2 separate regions of the Homo sapiens genome follow, and region 1 is linked to region 2. The links come from fine-mapping of genetic effects on plasma protein levels. Region 2 holds a variant in brackets. A gene starts in the other region. All regions are shown on their reverse strands.

Region 1 (2,872 bases), not on the chromosome of region 2:
AGGATAATTGCTTGAACCCGGGAGGCAGAGGTTGCAGTGAACCGAGATCATGCCACTGCACTCCAGCCTGGGCCATAGAGCAAGACTCTGTCTCAAAAAAAAAAAAAAAAAAAAAAAAAAGAGAAGGGTGGATGAGGGGGGAGCATGAGCTGGATGAATGTCAGTGAGAGATAATGAGGGACAGGTGACAGAGGCAGGTGAGAGGGAGAGGGGGTCAGTGTTGGGAACAGACAGGGAGAAGTGGAGCAGGACGAAAGGCACAGGTGGGCGACAGACTGGAGACATTTGGGAGAGAAATGAAGAGTGAGAGTGGAAGTGACAGGGACAGGTGAGCGAGCTAGGGAAGTGGGGCCGATGGGAGATGATAAAAGGGACCCAGGGGAAGGACAGAGTCAAGAGAGCAGTTTTGAAGTGGCAGGGGCACAGGACAGGTGAGGAGAGGTCCAAGAGAGTGAAGGACAAGGGAAACAAAGAAGGCTAAGGGGCCACTTAAGAAGAGGGGGGAGAGGGTCAAGGGAAGGGTGAAGGGGGCCTGACTTTCAGCTCACCTGGAGAAGCCTCAGGTCCCAATTCCCGGGGAAGACAGGAGAGCTGCAACTCCAGTTTTTCAGCTTGAGTGACTCTTCCTAGAGAGCAAGGGCAGGGGTTAGCCCACAGCAGGATGGCTGGAAGCTAGCTCATAGCAGCAAGGATGAAGTTGGCCTGACAGCATGGGTTTAACCCAGTGCAGAAAGGATAGAGGTTTGCCATAGTTGGAAGGCTAGAGGCTAGCCCACAGTAGAAGGGCAGTAATTGGGACACCCGTAGAAGTGGTTCATCCACAGCAACAGGAACTCACCAAGGCGTCCCTGGCCTTCTTGAAGCTCGCTAGCTCCTGTGGTGACAGAGATTTGAACCTGCCAATGTGGCAGCCCTTCCCAGTTGTGGTGGGCTTGGAAGTGGGGACAGGGCCTGCCACGGCCAAGCCTAGCACCAAAGTCACCAGCACCACGGTCCAAGCTGCAGCCATGGCTAAATCGCAACTGCTTCCCCAGCGGCATGGCTCTGCTTTTTAGCCACGCAAAATGGGCAATCCAAGATGATGTGTGTAAAGTGAAAAGGTAATTGGAAATGAGAATTTCCACTTTGACTTAAGAGGCATGAGTGGGCGGGGCCCGTCTGGGAGCCTGATGAGGGAACAGGTGTGGGCAGGGCCAAGTGAGCTGGGAGCTGCATCAAGAAGGAAAGAGAAACTGAAATCCTTAGAACTCCCTGGGCAGCTTTCAGCCAACTGGCCTCAGGGAGTCCCTGACGGAGGCTGAGATTAGGGATAAGGCTACCTGAGTGGCAGAGAGGAAGCTTCTTTTTTATTCTAAATTAGCCAGGTGTGGTGGCATGCGCCTGTGGTCTCAGCTACTCAGGAGGCCGAGGCATGAGAATCACTTGAACCCGGGAGGCGGAGGTTGCAGTGAGCCAAGATCGTGCCACTGCACTCCAGCCTGGGTGATGGAGTGAGATCCTGTTTCAAAAAAAAAAAAGCTTGTTTTTTATTTTATTGTTATTATTATTTTTTGAGACGTAGTTTTGCTCTTGTTGCCCAGGCTGGAGTGCAATGGTGCAATCTTGGCTCACTGCAACTTCTGCCTCCCGAGTTGAAGCGATTCTCCTGCCTCAGCCTCCTAAGTAGTTGGGATTACAGGTGCATGCCATCACGCCTGGCTAGTTTTTGTATTTTTAGTAGAGACTGGGTTTTACTATGTTGGTCACGCTGGCTTCGAACTCCTGACTTCAGATGATCTGCCTGCCTTGGCCTCCCAAAGTGCTGGGATTACAGGCGTGAGCCACCACCTTACTTTATTATTTATTTATTTATTTTTGTAGAGATAGGGGTCTCACTATGTTGCCCAGGCCAGTCTTGAACTCCTGGCCTTAAGCCATCCTCCTGCTTCAGCCTCGCAAAGTGCTAGTATTAAAGGCATGAGCCACTGCTCCTGGCCAAGAAGGAGCTTCTGCCATTGGTTTAAGAATGTCCCATTAACTAATTTCAGTTCATGCTCCTAATGTTTCTCTGAGTAGTTATTTTTATAATTGTGATGGTTAATTTTAGGTGTCACCTTGACTGGTTAAGTTTATCAGATAGCTGGTGATGCGTTAATTCTGGGTATGACTCTGGGGTGTTTCCAGAAGAGATTGGCATTTGAATCAATGGACTGAGTAAGGAAGACCCGTTGTTACCCAATGTGGTGGGCACCATCCAATTGGCCGAGGGCCTGAATAGAACAAAAAGGCAGAGGAAAGGAGAATTTGCTCTCTCTTATGAGCTGGGACACCCTGCACCTGCCCTTAAACATCAGAACTCCAGGCTCTTTGGTCTTTGAATGCTGGGATGTGCAGCTGGGCATGGTGGCTCACGCCTGTAATCCCAGCAGTTTGGGAGGCTGAGGCAGGTGAATCACTTGAGGTCAGGAGTTCGAGACCAGCCTGGCCAACATGGTGAAACCCCATCTCTACTAAAAATATAAAAATCAGCCAGGCGTGGTGGCACAGGCCTGTAGTCCCAGCTACTTGGGAGGCTGAGGCAGGAGTATCGCTTGAACCCTGGAGGCGGAGGCTGCAGTGAGCTGAGATCATGTCACTGCACTCCAGCCTGGTCAACAGAGTGAGACTCCATCTCAGAAAAAAAAAAAATGCTGGGACTTGCACTAGCTACCCCCTAAGTCCTGAGGCTTTTATTCTGGAACTGAGCTGCACTACAAGCTTCCCTGGTTCTCCAGCTTGCAGATGGCCTGTTGTGGAACTTCTTAGCCTCCCTAATTGTCTGAGCCAATTCCCCTAATAAATCCCCTCCTATCTCTCTCTCATCTATCTAGTCTCTCTCTCTCTCTCTCTCTCT
Region 2 (2,917 bases):
TTTTGAGACTAACTGTACTAATGAAATATTAACTGGTGTCTGAAGGCACAATCTACTTGATTTTCAATTACATTATATAGATAAAAGCATTAAAACTAACACAGACAGCATGAAAGATCAGCAGGTATAACAATAACAAAACAAAGGTAAGTTTAAATCAAATGATATCCTCAAGTAGTCTTTCAATTTCACTTACTCACCTGCTGTGTGCCCCCAGTGCCTTCCTCCCAAATCATAAGTCAACCGGCCATGTCCTTTTTGGGTTCATGTAGAACTACACAAGACCAACTGACTTATGATTTTACCTCTATGCACTCACTGCTGTGGAAAAGCAGGTGCATTATAAAACACACGGCTTACGGATTATATATAAGCTATTCATGGGTTCCTGATAAGTTTTTAAAAGTTTTCATGCTCCTTAAAAAGGTGTGCTTGGATCTAAAGACAAATTTGTTTGCCTTAATTTATTTTATATTGATAAACTGAAAATACGGTGGTAACTGATATCCTTTAAATCACGTTCTAAAATGAAGCTTTTTGAATATAAATAGAATAACTGAAAAGAAACAAAATGTGTTTTGTGGTTCCCTCTAGAGTGGAGAACTGAGTTGCAGAAGGCAAAAGAGGAAGGGAGAGTTTTTGCTAAATGACTTTGTACTTTAAATTTTTTTAACTGTATATATATTTTCTATGCCAAAATTAATTAATTAAATTTCCAATGATAATATAAAAGAATGAAGCAGTCTGGTTATGAGTACTAGTTCCTACATTACCTCACTGGATTACCTGGGCAACTCAACTTTATGGGCCTCAGGTTTCCTCATGTACTAAATGACTACAATGGCTCCTTTCTAGTGCAATTGTTTTATAACTTATATGTTCAGTAATTACTGAAACAATGTTTTCCAAATAGCTTAACTCTATTAAACAATGCAACTGTACTCAAGACTATACTTAGAGGCTCTTAGCCTTAGCACATGCATCTATGCATCAATATTTAGTAAATTTCCATGAGACTGACTACCAATCTTCAAATTTACTGTGACACTTAAGAATCCAAAATGTCACTGAACAGTTTATAATGGAATAGTTTAAAAAATTTAGTTACTAAAATAAATGCTTGTTAACTCTCAATTCTAAACATTTGAAAGTAATAGCCAAATGTTCCAAGTGCAAAATAAAAATAATATACATTATCATATATTAATATAAAAGCCTAGAGGATAGGCATTATACTTTCTCCTCTCTATCAGGATTATTAGTGGCTTCTATTATATAAAACATGAACGTGAAAATAACCTTTGTCTCTTAGCTTATTTCAACACTGTCAAGTAGTACTTTAAAAAATAACATTTTCTAAAAGCAATATATGTTTCACTGTAAAAAAATTTAAGAAATATGGACAAGGAAAGACAAAAAAATCTCATAATTCTACCATCCAAAGGTAACCAATGCTAATATCCTGGTATAAATATATAGGCACCATCTATAAAATATACACTTGCAGAATGGAGAACTGATATATTCTGTTTTATAATCTTTTCTTACTTAACATATTTGAACTTTCCCCAAGTTATTAAATAGCAGTCTACAGTGAATCATAATTTTTCTCTACTACTAAGTATAAGAGTAAAAAAAAATCTGTTAGAAAATCATTAGTGACCACCAGCATGTGAGCTGATGGCTGTTATCAGACTTTTATCCCTACTACTTGAAAGCTGGTTTAGGAGCAAGGCCCCTCTTAACACCAGCTAACTCCCCCTTCAAAATAAAAGGCATGGCATTTCTGAAAGGTTTCTGAT[C/G]CCAGAGTTAAAGATCCTGCTAACATAAAATAAAATTCCATTACAGATATTACCATTCCCTTCAGGCTCTTCTGGGTTGCTTTCTAGCTTGTCTTAGAAAAATAAGAAAGTGTATTAAGGTGTGGCTTTGTTCTGTCACTTGTTGGCTTGGTCTCATTTGTGTGTTTTAGTATTGAAATTGTCTTAAAACTGTAGAGCACCCAGATAGATGTCATTCTGGTAGGCGCTATATAAACTGTGAAATAAATATATTTACAGGTTCTAACTGGAAGGCAAAACAAACTAAAATGAAAGGAAAAATAATGATGCTGTAGTTGTTACATACACATGTTGTTTAACACAGGTTTGGAACCTGCTTTATAAGGTGCACTTTAAATTACAGGCTATAAGGTAAGATTAAAAAATACAAACTGGACTGGTATAGAAAAAACACGTTATTAATATTGATTACAGTCGATTTTTAAGGTTAAAAAGCAGTGCTTTAATTTTAAAAAAGAAATCTGCAACAGGTGGTGAGTGACTTGCAATTAGTAAAAACTTCTGGCAGAAACATACCATGTAGTAATCACAATGATCTTGGCTTGTGAGATGCTACTTAACCTTTTGCAAAAAATAATGAAGCAGTATGATGCTACCGAAGTTTATAAGAAAGGTCATTATCAAGGCTAAACAGGTCCAATAATATATTCTCTTGGAACATGCAAGTACAGGCTTGTCTGTACCCAATCAAAACCACTGGTAGCTTATTTCATACACATTATACTTTGCAGTTTTCCTTGACTTGCATTTTTTTTTTTCAAATCAACACACCTCAATCCTTTAAAACAAAACACTTCACTTTGATGAAGATTACAGATGAGTGACTGCCCCAAAATTAAGCATTTAAAAGTATAAAGTTATCAAAGTGTAACCAAGGCTTAACCATGGTTAACTGTCAAAGCCACAACTCCCCAAAGACAACCTCATGACAGAGCAAGGTTTCAGAAGGGAGCAGCAATAGCTACTATAATGTCTTTGTTTTATGTATTCTACTTAACCAAACATGGTATTTCTGTCCTTTTAATTAATCTTTAGAGTAGTAATTAACTAGATAGACACAGACTGTGGTGCGTTTA

Alleles and levels. Positions count from the first base shown, and alleles are read on the strand shown. Strength reflects both the effect of a copy and how common the allele is.
For the plasma level of the protein whose gene starts at base 1,024 in region 1, C is the high allele of the variant in region 2 and G is the other (weak association).

The links. PIP is the posterior inclusion probability: the model's chance that the variant is causal. Protein levels are from antibody-based Olink assays in UK Biobank. Linkage for the fine-mapping came from a reference panel and not from the study's own genotypes, which makes the PIPs less certain.
Region 1: it holds the start of IFNL1, and the variant in region 2 is fine-mapped to the plasma level of the IFNL1 protein (UK Biobank, PIP 0.98).

Annotation. Positions count from the first base shown.
Region 1 is chr19:39,294,559-39,297,430 of GRCh38, reverse strand. IFNL1 (interferon lambda 1) reads right to left here and starts at 1,024. Exons shown (of 5, transcript NM_172140.2): 1 at 839-1,024; 2 at 549-626. The coding sequence starts at 1,009.
Region 2 is chr2:161,386,244-161,389,160 of GRCh38, reverse strand. All of the region lies in intron 8 of PSMD14 (proteasome 26S subunit, non-ATPase 14), which reads right to left. Among named protein-coding and RNA genes, the nearest start is that of TBR1, 29 kb to the left of the region's middle. The variant C/G (reference allele first, on the strand shown) is at 1,803.